4 linked regions of the Homo sapiens genome follow. The protein of the gene in region 3 interacts with the protein of the main gene of each other region in a pairwise test. Each region holds a gene or a part of one and is shown on either strand. Other genes may lie near its edges. The genes, in order: ERICH1, STX2, MTG1 and KRT37.

What was found.
Region 1: the proteins of MTG1 (region 3) and ERICH1 interact in binary tests that used the Homo sapiens proteins (3 or more experiments, as listed by UniProt).
Region 2: the proteins of MTG1 (region 3) and STX2 interact in binary tests that used the Homo sapiens proteins (3 or more experiments, as listed by UniProt).
Region 4: the proteins of MTG1 (region 3) and KRT37 interact in binary tests that used the Homo sapiens proteins (3 or more experiments, as listed by UniProt).

What each region holds. Positions count from the first base shown.
Region 1 is NC_000008.11:714,220-721,242, forward strand, and holds part of ERICH1 (glutamate-rich protein 1), read right to left. Parts: intron 1,789-7,023; coding exon 1,642-1,788; intron 1-1,641.
Region 2 is NC_000012.12:130,794,236-130,801,258, forward strand, and holds part of STX2 (syntaxin-2), read right to left. Parts: coding exon 6,918-7,023; intron 4,956-6,917; exon of another isoform or gene 4,933-4,955; intron 4,401-4,932; coding exon 4,290-4,400; coding exon of another isoform or gene 4,266-4,289; exon of another isoform or gene 4,155-4,265; intron 3,680-4,154; coding exon of another isoform or gene 3,608-3,679; exon of another isoform or gene 3,525-3,607; intron 1,886-3,524; coding exon 1,805-1,885; 3' UTR 1,760-1,804; intron 1-1,759.
Region 3 is NC_000010.11:133,389,562-133,397,175, reverse strand, and holds the start of MTG1 (mitochondrial ribosome-associated GTPase 1), read right to left. Parts: upstream 3,020-7,614; 5' UTR 2,956-3,019; coding exon 2,844-2,955; intron 1,464-2,843; coding exon 1,399-1,463; intron 1,014-1,398; coding exon 909-1,013; intron 1-908. Other genes in the region: PAOX (peroxisomal N(1)-acetyl-spermine/spermidine oxidase), read right to left, coding at 5,721-5,864, 7,429-7,586. UniProt on the Homo sapiens protein: Plays a role in the regulation of the mitochondrial ribosome assembly and of translational activity. Displays mitochondrial GTPase activity.
Region 4 is NC_000017.11:41,421,570-41,428,976, reverse strand, and holds the start of KRT37 (keratin, type I cuticular Ha7), read left to right. Parts: upstream 1-4,391; 5' UTR 4,392-4,453; coding exon 4,454-4,945; intron 4,946-5,132; coding exon 5,133-5,215; intron 5,216-6,042; coding exon 6,043-6,199; intron 6,200-6,542; coding exon 6,543-6,704; intron 6,705-6,782; coding exon 6,783-6,908; intron 6,909-7,389; coding exon 7,390-7,407.

The sequences.
Region 1 (7,023 bases), on a different chromosome or scaffold from region 3:
CTTCCGGCATCTCTCGGTGGGATGTGCTGCACCCAGGCGGCCTCTTCCGGCATCTCTCGGTGGGATGTGCTGCACCCAGGCGGCCTCTTCCGGCATCTCTCGGTGGGATGTGCTGCACCCAGGCGGCCTCTTCCGGCATCTCTCGGTGGGATGTGCTGCACCCAGGCGGCCTCTTCCCGCATCTCTCGGTGGGATGTGCTGCACCCAGGCGGCCTCTTCCCGCATCTCTCGGTGGGATGTGCTGCACCCAGGCGGCCTCTTCCGGCATCTCTCGGTGGGATGTGCTGCACCCAGGCGGCCTCTTCCCGCATCTCTCGGTGGGATGTGCTGCACCCAGGCGGCCTCTTCCGGCATCTCTCGGTGGGATGTGCTGCACCCAGGCGGCCTCTTCCCGCATCTCTCGGTGGGATGTGCTGCACCCAGGCGGCCTCTTCCGGCATCTCTCGGTGGGATGTGCTGCACCCAGGCGGCCTCTTCCGGCATCTCTCGGTGGGATGTGCTGCACCCAGGCGGCCTCTTCCGGCATCTCTCGGTGGGATGTGCTGCACCCAGGCGGCCTCTTCCGGCATCTCTCGGTGGGATGTGCTGCACCCAGATGTTCTCATCCCACGTCTCTCAGTAGGATGTGCTGTACATAGGTGGTCTATTCCCGTGTCTCTCGGTGGGATGTGCTGCACAGAGGTGACCTCTTCCTGCATCTCTCGGTGGGATGTACTCCACCCAGGTGTTCTCTTCCCACGTCTCTCAGTTGGATGTGCTGCGCACAGCCGGTCTATTCTCGTGTCTCTTGGTGGGATGTCTTACACCCAGGTGGTCTATTCCCGTGTCTCTCGGTGGGATGTGCCGCACCCAGGTGGTCTATTCCCGTGTCTCTCAGTGGGATGTGTTACATCCAGGTGGTCTCTTCCCACATCTCTCAGTGGGATGTGCTGCACCCAGGTGGCCTCTTCCCGCATCTCTCAGTGGGATGTGGTCCACCCAGGTGGTCTCTTCTCGTGTCTCTCAGTAGGATGTGCCGCAGACAGGTGGTCTATTCCCGTGTCTCTCAGTGGGATGTGCTGCACCCAGGTGGTCTCTTCCCGTGTCTCTCAGCGGGGTCCTCTCACAGTCTCACAGGTGAGCGGAGTTGCACTGCAGGGACCAGAGCTGATGGGACTCTCATGGCAGATGATCCTGCAGCCACCAAGAGCTTAACATGGGGCTGTCATGGGACAGACGTCTGCCAAAGACCACGGGACAAGAACCTCAGAAGCCTGTCCCTGAGTGGGCACAAGCCAACGGGGCCAAGGGGGCCACCACAGTGACTGGGGGCATGGTGTATGGTGGGGAAGGCGCCTGTCTTCCTCAGAGGACAGGAAGGCTGGCCCAAGCCCCAGTTTCAGTCCAATCGCCATCTTCAGAGCACACAAGTAAATGACCCCAAAAAGGCAGCACCCTGACCTGGCCTTGGCTGGGGAGTCCACAGGGGCCTTGGCAGAGCTTGTGTGGAGAGCGATGCCTGCCCTGCCCACCTGCTGCAGGCCCTCTGCAGACCTGCAGACAGATGCCCGAGGCCCAAAAGACACATTCTCCAAGGCAAGTGATGATGACGGAGGTTAACTTCAGTTTCTGAGACCCACCCACATCTGCAGACAAACTCACCTGTCAAAGGCTCAGCATGTTTCTGGCTCACTTTCTCAGAGGTCACTTTCTTTGGTGGATTTTGGACGGCCAGCGTCTGGGGTTCCCTCTTTCCTTGGCCACTTGGAACAGGAGGAAAAAGTCTCTGCAGCACCTTCTCCACAAACACTGTACAGACAACCGATTAAAAGAAAAGGAGGAAAAGGAATGAATTATGCAGTTTATCTGAATCACACGTGACTTTTACTCTACACAAACACACACATCCTGAAAGCACCAACGGAGACCCAAGTCCCTGGTCCTCCCACGCTGGGCACTGCACACCAGGATCCCCCAGACTCTGCCCGCAGAGGAACCCTTGAGGCTGGCCCGAGGACCCCCCACCATCCTGCCATCAGCTGACCCTCTCTCCAGGGCATCACCCTGCATCCAGGAGGCTGTGCACTGCTGGCAGGTGCTGCCTCTGGCTGCAGGTCCCTCGGTTCCTCCCTGTGAGGTTCAGGCACATGCAGGCCATGACCCCTGTCAGTGGGGGCTGTGGTCCTGGGTGGACGGTGTCAGTGGCCCACAGTGCTTGGAGCCAGGTGAGTGAATGGAGCAGGTCTGGCGGGCCCTGAGGCAGGGCAGGCACCACCCCGCGCCCTCTGGGAACCCACGGTCTGCACTCTCTCCCTTAAACTGAACGTGTCAACAACTGCGAATGGGGAGAATTCCGTGCATCTGACGTGGTTTAACGACTAAACAGAGATTCTTTACTTTGCTTGTTTTAGTTTACGTTGTTTAAACTGTGGGACAAACGGTCATAATGAATAAATATTTCTGCCCTGATTTAAGTGTGGTTAATAAACAGGCAGCTGCTTTGGAATAACCAAAAGTCGCACAGTGGAAATCAGCACTCCTGAAACAACTGCCTGGTGCCTTTAGGAACAGGGAGGCAGGGACTTGGCCTGACTGGAGGCGTGCAGGGATCTGTCATAGGCCCCCTGAGAGGAGACGCTGGGGGTGGCTTCTAGGCGAGGCAGGGAGGCTCCACGGCCCTACCTGGGAACACTGTAGCTGAAGGCACAAATCCTTCCTAATTCTGGCCTCTGGGACAAACACGTGATAGAAATAACCCTCCTACAGGCCCCGCTGTTAAGAACACTATGTGGGTTTCCACGCAACGCTCACCAGAGCTCCCCGTGCCCTCCGTGGATGGACCATGAAAACCCTGAGCACAGAGCTCAGTGGGAGTGAGGTGCAGTGTGGTCATGAACAAGGTGGCTGCTCACTCAGACTCTCCACCTCCGCGGCTCCCAGAGAGTGAGCACAAAGCCTGCTTTTGCTGGGAGGAAACGACCTCTGGTTAAGTGGAAAACCTGAACTGAAACGATGTGATCCCTGAGACCCCGGGCTCTTCACCAGGTCCTGGCAATGAGAGGGTCCCCATACGCTATATTTTGAATATGATGCAGAAGTGCACTAGCACAGGATACCTCAAAAGCTCCTGCTGGCTGTGGTGAGCGGGTCCCACCCCTACAGAAAGGCCTTGCCTCAAGCATACCTGCCCGGCGGAGACACCTTGGCTCTCAGGGAGCAACAGGTGGTCTGTGAAATGCTTTTAAAAATGTGCTGCAGTGCTCCCAGGTATGTTCAAAAGAAGGTTCCAAGACTTCAGATAAAAATCCAATGGTCACATTTCCTTCAAATGTCAAAGAAGAAAATGTCCTGTGCCAGATGACCAAGCTGGTGATGAGCAGAGGAGATGGTAGGCAGATAAGATGCACTTTATCCAACATCTTCATAAGCCAAAACAAATTCTAAGACAAAACCATAACCAGCCGTCCAATTCTGCAAACAAGGACAGGGGCGCTCAGAGCTAAAGCCTTGCTGGGCCTGGGGCAGCCAACGCGGACATGTGGCTGAAGTCGCCTCCCCAGGCACAGCTGCCTGCGAGTGTCTGGAGCCAGGAAAATGCTATGGAGAAATCCCAGGCCATGGTCAGAGCCAGGCAATGCTGCAGAACGCCTGAGGCTGGGCAGGCACAAGACAGTCCCAGGGACGGGGGCAGGCCAGGGCAGGCCCTGACTAAACAGCCACCGCCAGGAGACGCTGGGCCCAAGCAAGCATCAGATGACAGAGTTTTCTGAAACAAGGCAGCTGATCCCAAAGAAAATGGCAGAACACGCCAGGGTAAGGATCGGAGCGCACTGAGAAACGGCACAACACATCAGCGTTTGGATCAGAGCGCACTGAGAAACCGCACAACACACCAGGGTACAGATTGGAGTGCACTGACAAACTGCACAACACACCAGGGTACAGATCGGAGCGCACGGAGAAACCGCACAACGCACAACACACCAGGGTACAGATTGGAGTGCAATGACAAACCGCACAACACACCAGGGTATGGATCGGAGTGCACGGAGAAACCGCACAACACACCAGGGTACGGATTGGAGCGCACTGAGTCTGGCCCCAGGTCACGGTCTTTCAAGGCTTCCTGAGGCAGATTTCGGAGCTAAAAGCGACATAATAAGAATGTGCCTTAAAAAAAAAGAAAGGTAGGGAGCATTTTCACTGAATTCCATCCACTGCCTGAAATAAATTACATTTATAGCCTAATTAACAGTGGTTTTCCACCAACACTGTTAAATTTCATGTTTCAAATGAAAATATCTGATATAGGTGTACAGTACATTTCGAATCTTTATAAAAATTCTAAAATGGAAGTAGAAGGCGGGAACAATGTAAAGTCAGCTGGCTTTAAATTCAGAGTGACAGCTGACAGGGGTTTCTCAGGGATAACTGACATGGCAGAGGCCACCCTGGGAGTCACAAGCTCCGCCTTCTGTAACACAGGCATTTCTCTCGGAAGAGATTTACGTGATCCCAGCCTCACGACCTGAAAGCCAGGAATCAATCTGCTGGCACAGCGTGCAGGGACCACAGAACCCCAAGGCCTCTGGGTCTTCAGCCTCTAGGATTTCTGCAATTCCCCTGCACGCCTGCTCAGGTGCCACACGAGCAGATTCGAGAGGGGTGGTTCCCAGAACCATGCAGACCCATGTGTTGTGCGGTTTGTCATTGCACTCCAATCTGTACCCTGGTGTGTTGTGCATTGTGCGGCTTCTCTGTGCGCTCCCATCTGTACCCAGGTGTGTTGTGCGGTTTGTCAGTGCACATGCCAATGTCCCAACACCCTCCTGAGGAGCTTCCCCATAGACCACCTAGGCAGGTCCCAGACTCACCTCCCACCGGGAGCCCAGGCCCTGGGGCCACTGCCTGGGCTGAGAGCCCGACCCTCGGGGCTTTGCCACACGAAAGCCCCAGGCCTGGCGAGGCTCAGGGAGGCCGTTTCAACCGTGAAAACTTGGGTTTCTGCCCCACCCCAGCCCTGGCTGTTTGAGCCGTCATCCAACAGCGGGCTCCCACATCGACCAGGCTCCGATCCTGCCCCATCCACCCTCCATGCCTCACTTTTCTCCCATTTTCCTTGTACTCCACCATCATGACATCTCTTGGGGCAGTTATTTTTTGGAACTGCAGTAACTTGGGTCCAGTGTTCTCAGGGTGACACTGAGGTCATTCACTTCTGCAGAACTGCAGATGGGCGCTGGTGCCCACATCTGGCTGAGATGCTTCTCTCAGCTGACGCCCGCGGTCGCCCGCAGGTGCTGTGAGGTCTGCTGGGTTTCTCCCTGCCAAGCGACTCTCTTTCCTTCATAACCAACAAACACTGTGGAGGAGACACCGCGGGACCAGATCCTTTTCCTCCTCAATCTCACCCACTAATTCTGGCATCCGCTGGTGGGTCCTGGCGGTGGCAGACGTCGCTGTGGGCTCCTCAGTGGCTTTCCTTCCTCACTCCTTCCATGTTTATCACGTGGAATTTTGTACTGAAGTGCCCACACTTGCACATGTATTGAATTATTACCTTTGTGCTATTTAATACTTTAAGGACTCGTAGATGTTTCATTCGTTCCAAGGACCATCACCCTGTACTGTCCGGATATACTTTGTTGCTCAAATAGTCCCAGCACTGGCCACAGGGTCCACCGCAGTGTGGACCCAGCGCCCTCCAGCATGGACCTGGTGCCCTCCAGCCCACCCGGCCCTCCCATGAGCACACAAGGCCCTACAAGGTACCGCAGGCTCATCTTGTATTTTCTCTGCCTAGGCCTGGAACCAGCCCCTTCTCCAAGAAGACCAACATTTAGAAAGCAGAACGCGGCCCTAGACGTGCACCTTGCTCCTCTTGTCTTCTGAACACAAAATCTCATCATGTCAGTCCTTGAAAATCACTGACTGCTCTGCACAAAAGAGGACTTGGAGGAAGAGGAATGTCCTGGACACCCTCAAAGACAAATGAGACCTCTGAGAGGCAAATGCAGGCCGCGCAGACATACCAACGGCAGGACGCCGAGGTGCCCACGAGGAAGGACGAGGAAACACACCTGCCCCACGCCAGCGTCACCCACGGACATGACCGATGGCAGAACGCTGAGGTACCCACGATGAAGGACGAGGACGCATGCTGGCACCGCGCCAGTGTCAGCCACAGACACACAGGATAACAAAGCTGATAACTGGGATAATCAGGATGCCAGGAAGAGCATGCAACTACTTAAGAATGCAGGAAAACAGGCTGCTTAAAAATCTTAAGCAAACAATACAATTTTAGTATACAATTTTAGTCCTTAACGTTTAAATCCCGAGTTTTCATATGGAGGGTGGGAGTGGGAAGAAGGCCGTAGGGATTTGGATGTGCTAATTCACGACGGTCAACACATAAAGGTCTGTACAGTTTACAGCCACGGGAAAGACAATGTCCCTTTTCAAATTCAAACTTGAGCACGGTCGTCAAAATAAACTAAAGCAAAAAGAAAACCTTTCAGCAGCCTAAGCTAAACTGGTTTAAGTATCATGAATCCCTATGGCTGAAGGGGCTCCATGTTGCATGGGTGTTCTAGAACCTAGTGAAGGAAAACGTCTTTCCCAGTGGCCCACACACTCCTGGAGGTCACCGTATCTGCTCCTTCGCTGGAATGAGCCTGAAGCCACTCTGACCCCTGCTACTTCTGGTAAGCCTTGTCACAGAAAAGACGAGCACGTCCCGCACAATGCTTCACTCACAGGAGTTACAGCATGATTTTGATATTAAATATTGGCAAAGGCTGGTTTTGTGTCATATTATCCATGACCCATGAATTACTCATAAAGTGTCCTGTAAACAGGCACAAAAACAGATGATCTCAAATAGATGTCAAAATGGATATCTCATTATAAAGCGGGAGATTTTTTCTTCAACAAGAATTATAATAAATTTTAACTCAGTTTAATACAAATATCCAGGTATCTAAAAATAACTTTGCTGACAAATAATATGTCTAAATATTTACAGCTGCTAAAATAGAAATA
Region 2 (7,023 bases), on a different chromosome or scaffold from region 3:
ATATTTTCAGCAAAGCTAAGAAGAAAAAAATAGAACATCTTGCCTAATAAACATCCTACACAAACATCCTGCCTAATAAAAATAGACGGTAAGAGAGTTCTGACTGCCAAATAATGGAATGTTAACACACGCAGCATCCCAGAGCTCCTTACAGAGTAATTTCAGGTGTAATTTTGTGGCTTTTGCATAAATGTCAGAAGACTAACTGGAAAACTTCTCATCTGGTAACTGCATGGTGAGCGTAACAGATGCTCACATTAAGATATCAATCTCTTGTTTTGAGATGGTCTCGCTCTGTCACCCAGGCTGGAGTGCCGTGGTGCGATCTAGACTCACTCTAGCCTCGACCTCCCCAGGCTCAGGTGATCCTCCTGCCTCGGCCTCTGGCGTAGCTGGGACTATAGGCACGTGTGCCACCATGCCCAATTAGTTTTTGGATTTTTTTTTTTCTGTAGAGACAGGGTGTTGCCATGTTGAAGGAATAAATCTTAAAGATTACAAAGCAATAGTGAGACTTAACCATGCTCGTGATTCCTTTCTGCTGTATGTTAACTTTTTAAAAAGCCTTGGGTGACTATCAAGTCTGCAGTCACTTCCATAACCCAAGAATAAATTCATTGGGGATGACTTGCCACACTCTAGACACCTGGGAACAGTTCACAACTGTCTAATACAAGAATTGTGCCAAACATTTACAGAGAAATCACTGCTGTGTCCACCTGTAACACACCGACAGCATTGCCACTTCAGGGCCAGTGCAAGGATGGCTCCCAATGCAGAAGAAAACCAGGGGGAAACCACAAAGCCTGCTGAAGTTTAGGAAAGGTGACACTCACACCTTGATTCTTTAAATAAACTGATACCTTTTATATTCAGAATTCTTTAAGAATTAACAGGCATGCTAACTAAATATAATACGTAATTTTCCTTTTAATATTAAAGGAAATATTTTTAAATAAAATAGATGCTGCCTATAGAAAGGTCGAAGGATGTTCCTTTCAGTCAATGTTTTTCTCAGCGTTCATCCATGCCCTCGATTCCATAGTAAAATGATGCGTTAGTGTATTTTATAAAGTACCTTTCAGTGTTGCAATTACTCTAAAAGCTAAAACTCAGGAGACAAAACATTACAACTGAGAATTAATCTTCACTGAATTTCTATGACATTTAATGAAGGATCCACTACATGTAAAGAGCTAATGGTCTTAGATCAAAAACAAAAGATTCAGGCTGAGTACAGTGGCTCATGTCTATGTATAATCCCAGCACTTTGGGAGGCTGAGGGCCAGGAATTCGAGACCAGCCTGGGCAATACAGAGAGTTCTCGTCTCTACTAAAAATAATTTTTTTAAAAATTAGCCGAGTGTGCTGGTGCACGTCTGTAGTCCCAGCTACTCGGGAGGCTGAGGTAGGAGGACAGTTTTAGCCCAGGAGGTCGAGGCTGCAGTGAGCCATGATCACGCCACTGCATTCCAGCCTGGGTGACACAGCTAGACCCTGTCTCAAAAACACTTTTAAAAACGGGATAAGAAGGTGACCTTGGTTTAAAAATGAGTTACCGCCCAGCCTGTGCTTGTTCTCAGTAAACACAGTGGCTGGGCACTCGAATCAGCACACAGGCAGATGTATCACTAGATGGCATTATCTGTACTGCGTGGCTGGCAAGCTTTTATTAGTTTTATGTCTATTACAATTAAGCAAATACTATTATTGGTTAATTGCAAAAGTTAATAAGTAAATTAGTTGATGAGTTACTTACTCCCACCCTGGCAGAGAGGCATGCACACTGACGTTATCCACACCATCATTTGCCAACTGACAAGCCAATAATTAGAGCGATTATGGCAACCAGAACCACTGACACAGCAATAATTATCCACTTTTTCTGTCAAAGAAAAGCAAGCTGATTATATCATGCATGGTTAATTTCATATTGCCACATTAAAAGACATCCTTCATTTAAAATAAAACGACCTGGCCAGGTGTGGTGGCTCACGCCTGTAATCTCAGCACTTTGGGAGTCCGAGGCGGATGGATCACCTGAGGTCAGGAGTTTGAGACCAGCCTGGCCAACATGGCGAAACCCTGTCTCTACTAAAAATACAAAAACCAGCCGGGCGTGGGTCTGCAATCCCAGCTACTCAGGAGGCTGTGGCAGGAGAATCACTTGAACCCAGGAGGCAGAGGTTGCAGAGAGCCAGGATCGTGTCACTGCACTCCAGCCTGGGCAACAGAGCAAGACTCCATCTCAAAAAAATAAAATAAAATAAAGCAAAACAACCCATCAGAACTCACTTTAGAAGCTAAGTTACAGGACACTGCTTAATACTGTTGGGCGACTTCTTGAGAGAGTGACTTAATAAGGTCAGACTACTTGGCGATAAGCTGCTATGTAACTGTTATTTCAGGTTTCATCCATGGGGACAGCACGACCAAGTCATTTTGCCACATTTCTGATGACTGAGACATGCAGTTAGTTTTCCGCATGTACAGAGGTGCGGGCCTGCTAGCTCAGTGACGGAGAGCCCCACTGCCTCGTCATGAAGCCCCGACACACTCAGTACTTGGCCTTTCGCTCCTTCTTTTATGTTCTTGGCAGTTACTTCTTCACTGCTCCTGACATAGCACACAGAAAAAAAAAACCCTTCTACAAACGTTGCCTGGCCTCCCTCTGAGGGCCACATGGCTCCGCGGGAATAAATGCAGGACACTAGGAGTGGGGACGACCCACACCTGAGCCAGGGGCAGCAGCAAAGCATTTGAGCGGCAAGGGGACAGGGAGACAAGCCAGGAGGGTTCCATTAGCAGGCATCTCATCAAAAAGACAGTGTCATTTCTGAAACAGGCATCACGTCTCTGACGAGTTTATACGCCAGCTACCGCACAGACCCCAAGCACCTCACAGAGCCAGGCTTGCTCATCCACAGAGGAGAATGAAAACGTATCACACCCACCACCTTCCCCCTTTGTAAAACCAACGAACTTTCACTATCGTTTTCACCAGACTGACGTGTTCAGGTCATGGAGAAAAGGAACAGGACTGCCTGTTTTTAATGAAAGCTGACTTAGGCCTGGAACTAAGTTAAGCACTTTATACAGGTATCTCTTCACCTCAGTTTACATTAGGGGCCAATTTTTTCAAAGCAATAAATGAAATAACATGAGAAACCATGTCTGGCATTTCAGAGATGACGAGCATACTTAGACATACCCAGGAAAAGCGGAGGGTGTGCCCTGGCGGCTGAGCCTGCAGCCCGGGGGTGTGAGTGAGGGTGTGCCCTGGCGGCTGAGCCTGCAGCCCGGGGGTGCGTCTCAGGGCCATCGCCTGGAGGTGCATCCACACACACCGTCTCACTCCATTTTTTCCTAACACGGTGAAAATCAGCATCTCTGTGTATTAGCACAAGGAGGTGACAATGTGAAAAACCCATAATCTCTCCAGTGTCAGGGGCACTATCATAAAATGCCTAAGTTAGGAGAGTAAGTTTTAAATTTTTGCCCCGTAACAAAAAAATCACACAGGGTTCCCTGAACCCTTTTTAATGCAAAGTCTGTGCATCTTGAGTGAAAGGGGTTCCCTTCTTTTGAGGATCCCTTTAAGTGGGTGCTACCTAAGACTGCAGGTCCACGGTCTCAAATAATTCTCTTCTTTCCTCCAAACCAAGAAGTCACGAATAACCTAAATTAAAAATAAATGTTCACTGCATCAAATGTGTAGCCAACAATTTGGTGCCAGGCACCGTGCCTCACGCCTGTAATCCCAGCACTTTGGAAGGCCGAGATGGGCGGATCACTTGAGGTCACGAGTTCAAGACCAGCCTGGCCAACATGGTGAAACCCTCTCTCTACTGAAAATACAAAATTAGCCTGGCATGGTGGCGGGTGCCTGTAATCCCTGCTACTCAGGAGACTGAGGCAGGAGAATCACTTGAACCCGGGAGGTGGAGGTTGCAGTGAGCCAAGATCACTCCATTGCACTCTACTAGCCTGGGCAACAAGAGCGAAACTCCAATTCAAAAAAAAAAAAAAAAAAGTGCTGGGATTACAGGCGTGCCACCACACCCAGCCCTAGGGTTTCAATTACTTAGAACACAAAAGATGAACTACAAATAATTCATCTAATAAACCTTTTAAATTTTTAGCAAAAAAAATTATTTCCATTTTAAAATAAAACATTTATTAATTAATTATTTCTTGGAATACCTTTTAGGCAGGCTTACATCAATGTATTACAACTTGAAACCAAATGAAGAGAAAAACGCAGCTTAATTCTTCGAAGCCAAACTCACCCTTCTTGCCTTGCTCTGATATTTGATAGCTTTTTTTGTTTCTTCTTTAGCGTGTTCTACATAGTCTGTGGCATTCATAACATTTCTTTCTATGTTGTTGATCATTTCACCCTTAAAACAAAAAGTTTCAAACTTAGAAGACATTTTCAAATGGCTTAATCATGTATCTTTAAGACAACCATAGAACAAAGGTTTTATATAAACACGATGTGCATGTAATGGATACTGAGGGTTTTTTTCACATTTACAGAAAGATAAAAGATGAGGCCATTATACATGTGCCAGTGCAAAGCAATCAAAACTCAATTTATATTTTAAAAAGAATGAAAAGGAATGGGCCACCATGTTGATAATTAAAGGCACCTCAAGTCAATTCTGAGATACCTTTAACACGCAGACACTTTCGACAGATGGGCAGGGTGAAGGGAGGCAGCCAGCTTTTGGTTGAACTAGTATTTTACCATTATGCACAGACAGACAATATACAAAGAATGACATCTTTTCCACAAAGTAGAAAATTGTAACTACTTCTTTAAATCAGTAAACTGAGCATAGCTCACATCTGACACTCAGCTGACTACATTAATGAGCAAAATGTAAACAGAGGTGAATTCAGCAAAGTGTGAGGGAGGTAACGTATTACCTGGTTGTCTGTCCAGACACAACCTGCAGCAGTGAATCGTAAAGCATTGAAGAATGACGGAGAGTTAACTCACTCAGTCACAAACTTCAACTTACTAGTAATCTCTGACTATGCACACATTTGCATTAGATGAGTCAATATAATGCAATACCAACAGACTTCTAAAAGGAAACAGTGAAACAAAGCCAGGGATGCAGCCATTTTTCTAACGGAGCTTAATGCAATGCATTTGGTATAGAGCAATTACAATTGAAGTCTAAGGTACTACAAAAGCTTTAGTAATTACAGAAATCATCTCTCGTTCTTTCTGTCCAGCTGGTTTCCTTTGGAATGCTTCCTGGAAATAAGTAACCAATGGTAATCAGACTCCCCACACTCCACTTACCATATAATGAATGGCAACGGGGCCCCCAAAATCAAAAAGGAGTAAGATCGTCCCATCCCTGCCCTCTGTGTAGCTGTTGGTTTCCTCTAGCAAATGCTTATACATACAAACATTAGCCGGGCGTAGTGGTGCAAACCTGTGGTCCCAGCTACTCGGGAGGCTGAGGTAGGAGAACTGCTTGAGCCCAGGAGGCAGAGGTTGCAGTGAGCCAAGATTGTACCACTGCACTCCAACCTGGGCAACAGAGCAAGACCCTGTCTCAAAAAAAAAAAAAAAAATAGGCATGGTGCCTGAGTTTTTCACACACATTCTCATTATAAAGTTCTTCAAAATACAGTGTTTCTTAACAAGGTTGCTGAAGCAGGCAGGAACAATCCTGTGTGTGGATGGATTCCTATCCTTACACAATCCAGGCAGTCTCAGAAAATAAGCCCATCAGATGTGAACCTACTTAGGGGATGACTCCAGCCAAAACAGATCCGAAACCAGGCTCAGGACAAGTGAGGAAACCATTTACTTAGGATGGTTTGATATAAATGCTTCCGCTTCACCTGGTGGTCAGCTGAATCCTAACCAGCAACAGAGTCTTATCTCCATGGTATTTGAAAAATAACGAGAAGACCTTATTCAAAGACAAAGAGCGAGTGTGAACATACCCATGCACATCACAGAGCATGTGATCTGTGATCCATCCCGTACTTTACATGGAGAGTTCAATATATACATACATACATATATATGTGTGTATTTTTTTTTTTTTTTTTTGGAGACAGGGTCTCACTCTGTCACCCAGGCTGGAGTGTAGTGGCATGATCATAGCTCACCACAGCCTTGAACTCATGGGCATAAACAATCCTCCCACCTCAGCCTCCCAGAGGAGTTTTCTATTTATTAAGAATTGCATTAACTCTTCGGTTCACTCAGAAGGGCCTTTCCACACCTGCTTTCACTCCCTATCTGTGTTACTGGGCAGATGGGAAACCCCGTGTAACAGGCACAAGCTTGCATCTGTGTCATAGATTGTATCCCCACTTGGGGTTGATTCTTTCAGACATTTCTCCTAGTTATTACTGTAATATATGCTTCTTATAGAAAATCTGAAAATAAATACTTTTAGAGAAGATTAAAATTCCCATAGTCTCACTGCCATTACACTGTTTGATATACGCCTTTCCTTCTGTGGATACTGTTTTATGGAGCCAAGCTCGTGCCATGTGTTTGTGTTTATGTACTCATACATATGTACGGGCATACACAGAAGATCTTTGTATCTCCCTTTTCTCTTAATTCTAGCACAAACATCTGCATATTTCAGTAAGAATTCTCCATGAACAAAGTTTAGGTTGCCTATGGTTGCCTAAAAGGCTGACCTATGAACACTCCATAATTTAATCAACTGAACCAGTCCCTTCCTGTTAACAGTTCAACTGTTAAAGCTGCTTCCAGCATTTCAGCATCACATATAACACTGCAATTAACCTGAATTTGGTGGATCCAAAATAACAGCTTTCCTAGATACATCCACTAGACAGAGTGGGATGCAGTAAGATTTTACACATGACTGATATCTCTCTTGGAGAATGCAAGAGTCTGTAACTACCTGAGTCTCCACAAACATAGCCATGTCCATGAACATCTCATGCAACTCTCGGATGCTGGTCTCCAGCTTCATGATGTCCTTGTGACGTGACTCGATTTCATTGAGA
Region 3 (7,614 bases):
TTTTGCTACTGCTATCTAAAAGACAGAGCCAGGTGTACAAGATGGAACATCAAGGCGGACTAGGAGCGTGACCACTGAAGCACAGCATCACAGGGAGACAGTTAAGCCTCCGGATAACTGCGGGCAGGCCTGACTGATGTCAGGTCCTCCACAAGAGGTGGAGGAGTAGAGTCTTCTCTAAACTCCCCTGGGGAAAGGGAGACTCCCTTTCCCGGTCTGCTAAGTAGCGGGTGCTTTTCCTTGACACTGACGCTACCGCTAGACCACAGTCGGCTTGGCAACGGGCGTCTTCCCAGACACTGGCGTTACCGCTAGACCAAGGAGTCCTCTGGTGGCCCTGTCTGGGCATAACAGAAGGCTCACACACTTGTCACGTCTCACTATGTCCCCTCAGCTCCTATCTCTGTATGGCCTGGTTTTTCCTAGGTTATGATTATAGAGCAAGAATTATAATAATATTGGAATGAAGAGTAATTGCTACAAACTAATGATTAGTAATATTCATATACAATCATATCTATGACCTATATCTAGTATAACTATTCTTATTTCATATGTTTTATTACACTGGAAAAGCTCGTGTCCTCGGTCTCTTGCCTCGGCACCTGGGTGGCTTGCTGCCCACAATGCGCACTCACTGACCACTCGGGCTCTGGCAGCACAACCTGGCCACTTCCCACAGGAGACGTGCACTCCCTGGGTGTCCAGGTCACGAACCACACATTAGATGGGGGCACGCCATATGAGAAACGATGCTGGCACGCTTCTGCAAAGCAAAGGGCTGTTTCTAAAGCAGAGCCTGCCTGGGCAAACTGACAAGTGTGCGTCCGGCAACTCTTCCGTTAGAACAAGCGACCTCGGGAAAACACAGCCACACTGCTGAAGGCGTCTGAGAGAAAGGCCTTTACCTGCTGCTCTGTAAGATCCGCCAAGTCCATCTTGTTGAGGACCAGCAAGTGAGGCTTAAGCCCAAGGGTTTCCTGAAACAGAGGGTTGCGGCCTGAAAGTGGGATGTGGCAAAATTAAGGTAAAAATTCCTCCAAAGCTTTACCAGCCAACCAACTTTTTTTCTTGCCATCAGTGAACGAATCATCACATCCTGCCAATTCATTCCTCAAGTACAGGAGAAAAGCCCCAGTTGGCAGGAACATTTAAACAGTTTCATAGCCCATCTAGAGGATTCCACTGCTGCACCGTACCGTCAGGCTTGAGTGACGCAGATATATGTATTAACAATGAAGTTTCAAAGACACGCAGTCTGGACCCCACATCACAGATTCTGATTAACTGGTCTAGAAAGGGGCCTCGCAATTCATATTTTTAAAAGCCTCCCCAGGTAATTCTAATGTGTAATATGACTTCAGGCAGAGGGGCCTCCCCTGCTCTGTGAAAGGATATCCGGGCATCGTGGACCTCGATGATACAGTCCACCAGCTTCAGGCTGCTCTGCATCTTCTTCAGCCCTGGAAAACAGAAGGACGCCTCAGCGAAGGGGCTCACAACCTTTCTAGAGTGATCGATTCAAGCTGAACCGTCCAGAATGACACGCCACCATAAATAACCTAAAAAGACTATATCTGAGGGAAGCGTACTAAGTAATGGTAACAGATAACATCCGCTGAGCGCCTCCTCCAAGGTCCGCACCCTCGGAGTGGGAGACTGGGAGGCACCCTGCCACAGGGTGGGCCATGTGTCAAAAGCCAGATGCGGTCTTCACCACCTGACTCATGGCTGACTCTGGGTGGAATATTTAACGTGCATGGGTCGCTTTTTTGTTTTCTGAGACGGAGTCTTGCTCTGTCACCCAGGCTGGAGTGCAGTGGCACGATCTCGGCTCACTGCAACCTCCGCCTGCCAGGTTCAAGCAATTCTCCTGCCTCAGCCTCCCGAGTAGCTGGGACTACAGGGACGCGCCACCATGCCGGGCTAATTTTTTGTATTTTTAGTAGAGACACGGTTTCACCATGCTGGCCAGGATAGTCTCGATGTCCTGACCTCGTGATCTGCCCACCTCGGCCTCCCAAAGTACTGGGATTACAAGCGTGAGCCACCGGGCCGGGCCCTTCCACGGGTCTTAATCTGGGCTATAACACAGAGTAACACTGGCTCATTAGGCCCCTGCTACCTCGCGGGGATGATGACGATAGTCCCCTAACCAGGAATACCACACACAACCAAGATAACAAAGCTTCCAGCTTTCTTCCCCTCCAGTGTTATCCGAAGACCGAGGACACAGCCTCAGTCACCCACACGGGCCCTTCTTCCCCCTCGGCCCCCAGTACACGCGGAGCCGACGCAGGAGTGGCCATCACAACACCTAGACGGGCTGGGCTGGCCCCAGAGGTCTTCTTGGGGCCGAATTGTGACAAACAGTAAGAATTACCAAAGACGTTAAGCAGGAGAACGACTCAAGATACCAGTTAAAACTGAACAGGTGCCTTCATACCCACTGTTTCATTTAGTCCCCAAAAGACTCAGAAAAGTCTATCTTGTCAAGAACATGTGGAAACGGAGGCTTCGGGGGATTAAAAGGGCAGAAGGAACTTGCTGGGAACAGAGGACAGGGGCGGCGGGCCAGAGGTAGGAGGTCAAGCAGGCCCTGGGTCCGAGGCTGCGCCGCGGGGGCACTCGCGGGAACGGGCCTCTCCCGCAGCTGCGCAGGGGAAGGGGTCCCGGCGGCTCCGGGAGCGGGTGAGAGCGGGGAAGGAGGGGAGACAAGGGAGGAGGGGCGGGGCCAGCCCAGAACGACCGGGAGAAGCAGGCGACGGCCGAAACCGGGGTGGGAGGGAAGCAGAGGCGCCGCGGCCGTAGGCATGACCTTGCCCCTCCCCGCCGTGCCTCACCCTTGGCCATGTGGCCCGGGAACCAGCGCGCCACGTCGCGACCGCACAGGGGGAAGTTCTCCCGCCAGGCGGCCTGGGCGGCGCTGCACAGCGCGCGCGGGGTCAATCTCATGGCGGCACCGTCCCCGGAAACGCTCCCGCAGCTGACCTCCTCTGCGCCGCTGCGACCCGCCTCTGAGGTTCCGGCGCTGCGGGCCTCCGGCACTGCGGGCTTCCGGCGCTCCAAGGGGCCGCACCACGGCCTGCGCGTGCGCACGACGTTGCCTCCGCCTCCGGCGAAGCCCGGAGTGGGCGGGGCCCGGGCCCAGAGGGAGGGACGAATGGTGGGTCGAGCGTCGGGGCGGGACTGCGAGGAGACCCGGGGGGACGGGGAGGTTCCTGGGTTTTGTGGGTTTAAGTAATTCGCAGATTTATTAACATTCATTAAATATTAAAAATCATCGTTCTCCCTTAAGCATATCCTGAGTATAAGTGTAAAAATTTAGCAATCTCTTTTTACAATTTGGTTAAAATCTCTCAAATACTTTAAATTTACCTTATAAATGTAATCTCTTCATTTTCTTTTTAAGTACTTCAGGGTTTTTGTTTGTTTTGTTTTGTTTGAGACGGAGTCTCCGCTCTGTTGCCCAAGAGTGCAGTGGCACGATCTCGCTCATTGCAACCTCCAACTCCTGAGTTCAAGGGATTCTCCCACCTCAGCCTCCGGAGTAGCTGGGATTACTGGCGCCTGCCACCACGCCGGCTGATTTTGTATTTTTAGTAGAGATGGAGTTCCACCATGTTGGCCAGGCTGGTCTCCAACTCCTGACCTCAAGTGATCTACCTGTCTCGGCCTCCCAAAATGCTGGGATTACAGGCATGAGCCACCGCGCGCAGCCTCAAGTACTTCAGGGTTTAATATAACAAACTGTTTCCAAATACTGACTGCAGTTCTGCTAAATTAAACCGATTAATTAATGAGGCTGAAATATTCTCCACTGTCCAAGACTAGACATAAATATAGTCGGATTTCAACTCTAAATCAGCAGTCAGCAACTGCTCAATTGCACACTGCGTTACAAGAGTATTACTCTACCGGAATTTTTATTTTTGAGACGGAGTCTCGCTCTGTCGCCAGGCTGGAGTGCAGTGGCGTGATCTTGGCTCACTGCAACCTCCGCCTCCCGGGGTTCAAGCAGTTCTCCTGCCTTAGCCTCCTGAGTAGCTGGGACTACAGGTGCGCACCACCACGCCCGGCTACTTTTTTTGTATTTTTAGTAGAGATGGGGTTTCACCATGTTGGCCAGGCTAGTCTCGAACTCTGACCTCAGGTGATCTGCCCACCTCAGCCTCCCAAAGTGCTGGAATTACAGGCATGAGCCATGGCACCCAGCCTCTACTGGAATTTTTTAAACAAGCTACTGAAAATACCAAACATGCTCAAATTCTAAGTACAAAAATATTGCCATGGTTCTGATGTTCTTAAACCACCTAATACCCTAACGCCTAGCTGTAAATATTTTTGGGCATGAGAGAGTGGCCCCTCCGTGGAAGACAGAAGCCTCCCAGGTGGTTTCTGGGCTGAGTGGGGGCAGTCAGGGCCTCCTGCTAGGTCAATGCCCCCAAGCCCCCTCCTCACCAAGCCGGTCCCTCACACCCAGAGGGGGCAGCCTGGGTCTTGCTGCCTTTCTCCCTGGGATACAGAATTGATGAAACCCTAAATGTCAATGATAAAGATTTTTGTACTTTAAGGAAGCTGCATTCCCTCATGGTCCTAGGAGCACAAAACCACAATAAAACCCTGTGGAATCTGAATTTCTCTCCCAGGCGTCTGATGGGCAGGTGTCCCCAGAGAGAACAGTCTGGTGACACAGCAAATGCAGGTGGGGCTGCTGGCTACAGAGGGAGGCTGGGGCTCGGGAGGGTGGGGTCAGGGAACATCCTAGGAGGGGCAATTTGAACAGAGACCAGAGGGTGAGAAGAGAGGAGCCCTGCAGATCCAGGCTGGGGTGGAGGGGCCGGAGAGGGGCCTGGACTCCCAGCACATTCACCCCAATACCACGTGGTACCCCAGCACTGCCCACACCCCAACATCCCCCGGCACCCAGCACACTCACCCCAACACCCCCCAGCACCCAACACTACCCACACCCCAACACCCCCCAGCACCCCAGCACTGCCCCCACCCCAACACCCCCCAGCACCCAGCACACTCACCCCAGCACTGCCCACGCCCCACACACTCCCTGGCTCCCATGGGCTGGGCACCGTTTCTCTTTTCAGGCCTTATTATGTATTCACTTCCTCCAGAAAACCCCCGGCCTCAGGGCAGGGCAGGGCACCCCTCATCTCCCCAGTGCCCTGCGAACCTGTGAAGTGGGCGCCTGATGCAGCATCAGTTGATGAGCAAGAGGAGGGTTGTCAGCTATGCTGTCATCCCAGGCAGCAGCCACGAGAATGCAGGGGCACGAGAAGCAACTACAGGACCCAGAGTTCAGGGAACCCAGAGTGTGGGGCCATGTGTGGTTGTGGGGATTGGAGACACAGGGCCCTGTGCAACCTGGGCCCGGAGCAAGACAAAGACAACAGCAGCAGATGCTGGAGCCCCAAGGCAGGAAGGACAGGACAGCCTCAAGGCAGGAAAGATGGCTCTGGGAGCTGTGGCTGTAACTTGCTTTATGTGTCCAGCATCTCCGTGAGCATCTGGTGTCTCAGCTCAAGTCAACCCTGGCCAGACTCCAATAACAGACACAAGAACTGAGAAGGTGGCCCTGGTTACCAAAAACCAGAGGACCCTCATTAACATCCCCAAATTTCAAGCCAGACTGAAATCTGTCAGAAGAAATGAGGGTCCCAGCCTACCCCCGACACGGGTGGAACAGAGTAGGCTGGGCCCAGCTAGAGCCTGGGCCTGGGCTGCTGCACCTGCGGGGCCCACAGACTGAGGAGGCGGTCGGCCTCCCTCCATCCCGACAGCAGAGCCCCGTGCGTCGTGGAGTAAAACGTGCGATGTGTGGCTTCCCCCGCAAACAGGATCTGGAGCTGCAAAGAAGAGCCAGGGTTAGAATGGGGATGCAATTCAGACAGCAGGGTCTGGGCAAGGAAACACAGAAAATGGCTCACAAGCATCCACCAAGAAGCAGGAAAACAGCTCACACACCTCCACCAACGGACGAGAAAAGGGCTCACGTGTACCCACCAATAGCCAGGAAAACAGCTCACACACATCCACCAACGGGCAGGAAAACAGCTCACATGTATCCATCAACAGCCAGGAAAACGGCTCACACGCATCCACCAACGGGCGGGAAAACGGCTCACACGCATCCACCAACGGGCGGGAAAACGGCTCACACGCATCCACCAACGGGTGGGAAGACGGCTCACACGCATCCACCAATGGGTGGGAAAGGAAGCCACTGCACCCCGCAGCTCAGGTGTGAACAGCTTTTAGAGAAAACAAGGGGTGTAAACACTGAATAGTGATCTGGCCTCAACTCCTGGATCACATATGGGGAGGGTGGGGGAGGGATCTGGGAGTCGGGTGGGCAGAGGAAGAAAGCTACAGCCTTATCTGATGTAATGAGAAGTCAATTAGTAACACCTGAAACTGAAAACTCAAGAAGCAACATTTCCAAGCAGGTTCACTGAAGAGAGACCATGAGCTGATTGGAAAACTGAACAGTGACTAAATATTGGATCATATTGAGGAATGATTATTAATTTTTAAGTGGGTAAATGGTATCATAGTTATATGGTTTTATTTTTATGTTTTCTGAGACAGAGTCTTGCTCTGACACCCAGGCTGGAGTCCAGTGGTGCAGTCATAGCTTACTCCAGCCTCAACTTCCTGGGCCCAAGCCTGAGCAGCTGGGACTACAGGTGCATGCTACCATGCCTGGCTACTTGTGTGTGTGTGTGTGTGTGTGTGTGTGTGTGTGTGGAGACCGACTCTCACTATGTTGCCCAGGCTGGTCTCGAACTCTTGGCCTCAGCAAACCTCCTGCCTAGGCCTCCCAAAGCACTAGGATTACAGGTGTGAGCCACTGCCCTCAGCATCATAGTTAAGTATTTTACAAGGATGTCTTTATCTTTTAGAAACAGGCACCAAAATATCCTGAGGTGAGACAATGTCCTGTGTGAGTCATGCTTAATAAAAAAGGGCGGGGGTGGGCGGGGAGAAGCTTGGCTTAGGGGAAGCCTGGTGGGCACTGAAAGGTTCTCCCTACTTTAGTATGTTTGACATTTTGCACAGGAAATGTATCTCAAAACGTGGTAGCAGAAACATGTTTTTAGAGATGCAGTAAACTTAGCGATGAGAATCAGCTGGGAGCACCGTCTGAGAAGGGCAAAAGGGGCTCCACCTGCCATTTTGGTTTTATTTTCTTTTGTTAGCACTGCAGAATTCTCTGACTTTTTAAGCTGTGTGTGTATAATTCTCACAAAAACAGTACATTTAAAAATTATTCTTAGTTTCAAAAAGAAAATGGCTTCCGAGTCTGGGATCCCAGCCCACCCGCCACTGGCTGGTGCTCCTGCAGCGCCCAGACTCGGCGGGGGCCTCTGCAGCGGGACCCACGCCCCCCGACTGGGGCACGCCACATACCTGGGCGCCGGCGCCGTCTGCAGGGAGGGGCTGAGCCAGCAGGTCCAGGTCGCCCCCAGTACTGCCCACGGCCACGTAGCTGTAGGACCCCCTAGTGTACGGGGCGCTGTGCCAGCGAGACCGCAGGACGCTCTTGGGCGCGGGGAGCCGTGGGTTTCCTGAGCCACAGAGACACTGCATGTTAAC
Region 4 (7,407 bases), on a different chromosome or scaffold from region 3:
TTAGCCAATGGGATAAAATCCTGCCAGAGGATAGGGTCAAGAGAGGGTTCCTATTTAGCAAATCAAAGGGAAGAATTTTAATGCTTCAATTCTCTGGATTATAGTGATGCTATGTGTTGAGGCGGAAGATAGGAACAAAGGGGTCTTTGAAGATGGAAAATGCAGATTGCACCCAGAGGCCTCTGAGGGATGGCCTGGCAGGGAGAGGCCCTCTAAGGATTGCCCCAGTAAAGAATGAGTCATAGCTGACCTCAGGGCCGCTGGAGCCACAGCTGACCCACAGTGGGTTTTCCTCTTGGGAAGAATTCCAGACCCCTTATTTCTCCTTGAGAGAATTCCAAGAGCCCAGGTTTCATCAACACCATCATCCCCTGACTCCCTTGTGGTTTTCACGGGGATGCATGTTCAACTTTTTCTCAGAGCAAAGATGTATTTATGCTGTTTAAAAATATATGCACACAGTTTTATGTATAATGTGGCATCATAACTTGTAGGGCATTTACTCTTATTTTATACATTCAGATATGTTTGGTTTTTTTTTTGAAACACTTCTTAAGGCTACACAACAGGACAGAGAAAAATAAACAGGAACATATTCAACAATTATAAAACATGATATGATAAAGAATATAAAGTACTAGTTTCCTTTCAATACTTCAAAAGATACATATATAAACTTTAAAAAAATGCTCAACATCACTAATGATCAGGGAAATGCAAATCGAAATCACAATGCGATACGACCTTGCTCCTGCAAGAATGGCCATAATCAAAAAAATAAAAAAACAATAGATGTTGGAGTGGATGTGGTGATCAGGGGACACTTCTACATGGCTGGTGGGAACGTAAACTAGTACAGCCACTATGGAAAACAGTGTGGAGATTCCTTAAAGAACTAAAAGTAGAACTATCATTTGATCCAACAATCCCACTACTGGGTATCTACTCAGAGGAAAAGAAGTCATTATGCTAAAAAGATACTTGCACACACACATTTGTAGCAGCACAATTCACAATTGCAAAATCACAGAACCAACCCAAATGCCCATCCATCAGTGAGTGGATAAAGACACTGTGGGCTGGGCACAGTGGCTCACACCTGTAATCCCAGCACTTTGGGAGGCCAAGGCGGGTGGATCACCTGAGGTCAGGAGTTCAAGACCAGCCTGGCCAACATGGCGAAACACCTTCTTTACTAAAAATACAAAAATTAGCTGGGCATGGTGGTGGCACCTGTAATCCCAGCTACTCGGGAAGCTGAGGCAGGAGAATCTCTTGAACCTGGGAGGTGGAGGTTGCAGTGAGCCGAGATGGTGCCACTGCACTCCAGCCTGGGTTACAAGAGTGAAGCTCTATCTCAAAAAAAAAAAAAAAGAAACTGTGGTACATATATATGATGAAATACTACTCAGCCATAAAAAGGATGAATTAATGGCACTTGTAGTGACCTGGATGAGATTGGAGACTATTATTCTAAGTGAAGTAACTCAGGAATGGAAAACCAAACATCATATATTGTCACTGATATGTGGGAGCTAAGCTATGAGGATGCAAAGGCATAAGAATGATACAATGGACTTTGAGGACTTCGGGGGAAGGGAGCGGGTGAGGGATAAAAGACTACAAATAGGATGCAGTGTATACTGCTTGGCTGATGGGTGCACCAAAATCTCACAAATCACCACCAAAGAACTTACTCACGTAACCCACCTGTGCCCCAATACTTATGGAAAAAAACCCCACCACTTATGGAAAAAATACCACCTGTACCCCAATAACTTACGGAAAAAAACCTAAACTTTTTTTTTATAAGTAACATCACAGATGCTCACATCTTCACATGCTTTTAAGTATTATTTGTACTCAGTGTAAGGCTATTATCATTTTTCATACATAAAGTTTTTTTTAGCTGTGTAACAATGCAATTTGTAATCCATTCAAGTAAATTCAGCCCCAAAGTTGTTGCTTCCCAGCATTAAGTCCTGCGCCCACCCCTCTTCTAAGATTTTCTAAAACTTGTATTTCAGAGGAAAAAAGTGTAGCTGAAGGGAATGCATATTTGATGCATATTTGGCTACACGATTTCTGTTTACTGTATTTTGCTTCCTATTTTATGTCTAAATCCTATTATTTTCATTTAAAATCTTAATAATGGCTCATTTCCAGTATGTCAATTTCAAAGACTTAAGGTTTTGCTACTAGTATCAGCCATTTACTTTCCCACTAATTGGGATTTTTTTTTTTTTAAAGAGTTTATTTATACTCTTTTAGAGCTTGTCCCATGGTCCTTCTGGTTTCCCTCTACCACTTGGGAGGGATGACTCCTGGCCACACCCCCATTGGTTGACTTGTTTTCCAGCTCTACTGGAAATCTCTGGGATTTGGGATATACAGTCAGAATGTTTCTGTCAACGACAGACCACATATACGGGCGGTGGTCCCACAAGATTATAATGATGCTGAAAATTCCTATTCTCTAGTGATGTGGAAGTGGTTATAATGTCGTAGTGCAATGCATTACCTTTTCTATGTTTAGATACACAAATATTATCGTGTTAATAATAGTTGCCTATGATACTCAGTACAGCAACATGCTGTACAGGTTTGTAGCCAGGTGCTATAGGCTGTGCTATACAGTCTAGGTGTGTAGTAGGCTCTACCATCTAGGTTTGTGTGAGTTCCCCCTATAATGTTTCCACAGTGAAGAAATCTCTTAACGACGCATTTCTCAGGACGCACCCTGTCTTAAATGATGCATATGTTACAAACTAGCGTAACTTTTTTTTTCTTTTTTGAGACAAAGTGTCAATCTTGTTGCTCAGGCTGGAGTGCAATGGCGCAATCTTGGCTCACGGAAACCTCCGCCTCCCGGGTTCAAGCAATTCTCCTCCTCAGCCTCCTGAGTAGCTGGGATTACAGGCATGTACCACCATGCCCGGCTAATTTTATATTTTTAGTAGAGACCGGTTTTCTCCATGTTGTTCATGCTGGTCTCGAACTCCTGACCTCAGGTGATCCGCCTGCCTTGGCCTCCCAAAGTACAGGGATTACAGGCGTGAGCCACCGCGCCCGGCCTAGTTTAACTTTTTAAAGTGCATTTTCTTGTTGTCACTGCCATAGTATTTAAATCTTTTCCTTTGCTGGAACACAAAGACCTTCAGTAATTTTCTTTTCACCACAATTTCTCATCCAGTAACTAAGCCCCTTCTTGCCCTCTCCTTAGGCCCAGCACTGACGGGGCAATGACACCGTTGTTCTCACCGGGGGCCATGATGAAGTGAAAAGAGAATGGGCCTAGCAGACATGAGACTGAATCGAGCCTTTGCCAGTTCACTAACTGTCAATCAGAAAATGTGCAAATGTACTTCACTCTAGTTTTCTCATCTGTACATTGAGGCAATGAGTAACCACCTCATAGGTGGTAAGGGTTAGATAGGAAAGAACACAGTAGAATGCCTAGCACACCTAAGTACTCAATCAATGTTAGTTCTGGACCTTTCATTTGAATACTGCTTGAGCTCTGTGCCCAATCTCCCTTTCCTGGATCAAATAAGATTTTTCTTTGTTAGTGATTTCTTTCTAGATACTTCCTTGGCCAGAACTATAGATCCTCTGTCTTTCACTAACTCTTGTTGATCTATGGTTCTCATTCAAGTTTGTGTAGAACATCCAGAGATTTCAGAGGCATTGTTTACTCCTGATGAACAGGGAACATTGCGTGTCCAGGAACCAGCACACTGCCTGAGTTATGGGGGATATTCAGGAAGCATGCTGAACCAATGAATGAATGAACAAATGAATGAATAGCTGATTCTGACTAGTCAACCAAAACTTAATTAGCGCCATTGCTTCCAGATGTTATTGCTTCTCAAGGGAGTATGCAATGTGAAAGAAGAAAGAAAAAAAGGCGCCTCTCAATCGTCAAATATCAGTAGATGCATTGGTTTTATTAACTGATATTTTCTCTTCAAAGGAAAGGCTGATTCAGTCTTGCACAGGCGAAAGATCCAGTGGGTCCCATTGGTTCTCTGTGTCTCCTGCTACACAAATTACTGACGGAAAGATTTGAGCCTTCATTGTGACCACATCCACAGAGACCATAGTCCAGAGAGAGCAATTGGGGCCTGAATCAACTGCTGGTGTTTGTTGAGCAGAAACAGTGAGTCTCTGACTTCCCACCAACAGCTAACCTGATATGGAAGAGCCAAGAGGCATCTCAGATTTGTCAACATTGCTTTAATGAGCTGAGGAACTTCTCATGGTAAACTCAGCAGCTGAGTAACAGGATGATGGCACCACAACAGGTAGATAATCAAGGCAGGAGGTCAAAGCACTGGAGCCAACACCCGCCCAGGATGGGGTATAAAAGGGTTGGGAGGAGAGGAGGCTTCAGTCTCAGTGGCTCAGCCTTCCCAGCTGATCTGAAGCTCCTGTGCAGCCTCAGCCCTACACCATGACCTCCTTCTACAGCACCTCCTCATGCCCTCTGGGTTGCACCATGGCTCCTGGAGCAAGAAATGTCTTTGTCTCTCCTATCGATGTTGGGTGCCAGCCTGTGGCAGAGGCCAATGCTGCCTCCATGTGCCTCTTGGCCAACGTGGCACACGCCAACAGAGTCCGTGTGGGGTCGACTCCCCTGGGCCGCCCCAGCCTCTGTCTGCCCCCAACCAGTCACACTGCTTGTCCCTTGCCAGGGACCTGTCACATTCCCGGCAACATCGGAATCTGTGGGGCCTACGGCAAAAACACCCTGAATGGCCATGAGAAGGAGACCATGAAGTTCCTGAATGACCGCCTGGCCAACTACCTGGAGAAGGTGCGCCAGCTGGAGCAGGAGAATGCAGAGCTGGAGACCACACTCCTCGAGAGGAGCAAGTGCCACGAGTCCACCGTGTGCCCCGACTACCAGTCCTACTTCCGTACAATCGAGGAGCTCCAGCAGAAGGTGAGGTGTGGGATCGCCTGGGCATGCTGGGTCTGAGAAGGCAGAAGCCTTCGCAGGAGGAATCTGCATAAGGTCCAGAGAGCTTTGGGTTCTTGGTTTCTCTTGGACATGAGCGTAAATACCACACATGGAGTGGGAGCTTAGAGTATGGTGCTTTGTGTGTGAACCGTCTTTCCGTTTTCCTCAGATCCTGTGCAGCAAGGCTGAGAATGCCAGGCTGATTGTACAAATTGACAACGCGAAGCTGGCTGCTGATGACTTTAGGATCAAGTAAGTCAGGATGAGGAGGGTCAGTGTGACTTCTCTCCTGCTGTATTTCCAAGGGCCCGCCCCATTACTCAGTCTATATTGTAGGTGTTCAAAAACAGTTTTTGACTAGAAGAATATTTCTCTCCACACCTTAAATTAGCCTGTTGCTAGAAATGGTCATTATATAGGAGGAAAGAGAATATAAGCATTGAAAGAAAAAGAAGGGCTGTAGTCTAGATTGGTTAGAACCTATGTCACTTTCTCCCATATCTAGAAGATAAGAGGATTTTGCTTTTCAATCAGAAGTAAAATTGAGTCATCACAAAAATAAACTGTCAATGCATAGGTTGTTGCTAGACTCTCTGACTCTTGGCCAAATCCATCAGCTGGAGGAATTGTCATTGAAGCTCCTTGGTAGCTAGAGTTGTGCTTGAATGAAGGGGAAAAGCAAGAAAACAACGAGAAATAATGAATCCAAGAGGAAAAGCAGCAAACTGAAGGTCCAGAGGCTTATTTTTAGCCATTCTTTTTCCTGGCCAAATGACTCCTATTATGGCAGAATAAATGCTGCATTTGAAGTCAGAACACTTAGGATGAGTCCATGCATTTACTATTAACTGGGCATGGAATTCTGAACAACTCGTGTTTTGTTTCTGAGCCTCAGTCTTCCATCTGGTCAATGGGCATAATGTCCTGACTACAAACCGTGTCGCTGCAGGGTTGAGAATAGTGTATACTGCCCACGTGAACAAATAAGGATCCAAGGTGGTGTGGGAGGTAGGAAGCCAGGGCAGCTGAGAGGGGCTATTGGGGCATTCTTTTTGACCCTGTGCCTCCTGTGACGGAAGGCTGGAGAGTGAGCGCTCCCTTCACCAGCTGGTGGAGGCGGACAAGTGCGGGACGCAGAAGCTCCTGGATGACGCGACCCTGGCCAAGGCCGACCTGGAGGCCCAGCAGGAGTCCCTGAAGGAGGAGCAGCTCTCCCTCAAGAGCAACCACGAGCAGGTGTGGCCCTGGCTGCTCAGACTCCTGGGGAGGGCGCTGGGCAGACAGGGGAGCTCCCCGGCCCTGGGGCTCTCAGAGCATTGCCTGGGCTCAGCTGGCCTAAGGATGCAGGGCTGAGGTGGGTCTGAGGGTCCAGAGGGCCTCTGTGGAAAGTGCAGACTTGCCTTGGGCATGAGGAAGGTGTCCAGGTGGGCTCTCCCAAATGCACTCTGGACAAGACTTTCCCATTTGCTTATGTGTGGGACTCCCCTCCTACTGCTTGCCAGGGACGGAGTCCTGGTGCTGTCTGCTCCATCAAAGGCCGTTTCCTTACGCAGGCTGTCTATCGCTTCCATTTCTGCAGGAAGTAAAGATTCTGAGGAGTCAGCTGGGGGAGAAGTTCCGGATCGAGCTGGACATTGAGCCCACCATTGACCTGAACAGGGTGTTGGGGGAGATGCGGGCTCAGTACGAGGCCATGGTGGAGACCAACCACCAGGATGTGGAACAGTGGTTCCAAGCCCAGGTGAGTGGGGGTTACAGAGCCAGGGAGTACCTGGCCTCCATCTGAGCAGGGAGGTGACTGTGTTTCTCTGTGCTCCAGTCTGAAGGCATCAGCCTGCAGGCCATGTCCTGCTCCGAGGAGCTGCAGTGCTGCCAGTCGGAGATCCTGGAGCTGAGATGCACGGTGAATGCCCTGGAGGTGGAGCGCCAAGCCCAGCACACCTTGGTACGTGTCCTTCACCCTCACTGCACTGCAAATGCCCCATGCCATGTCCTGGTAGTAGCATCTCTTAAAGTCTCACAAATCAGTTCCTTCAACATTAAGTCAAGATCTGGGGTCCTCTATACCCGATGGAGACGTCTTGCTGTCAAGTTCAGTGTGACCCAGGGAAATGGTTTCTTCAGAAAATCAAGTCCACTTCCTTTACAACACAGTGCGGAAGTTCAGGCACTCACTCCACAAGATTTTACGAGGTGCCTGCTTTTTGTCAAGCACTGGGGATACAGGGATGAACATGACAGTTCCTTAAGTTAGATTTGTGTGCATGAGAGAGAAGTCATGGTCATGTTGACAGTGATTTCTCCAGAGCTCTGAGAATGTCCTATGACATTTTGGAATTTGCCCTATGTGTGATGAGTTTGGTCATGATTTTCACTGCTGAGTTTTGGGGCACCTGGATCTCTTACCCCATTATTTCCCATTACAGAAGGACTGTCTGCAGAAC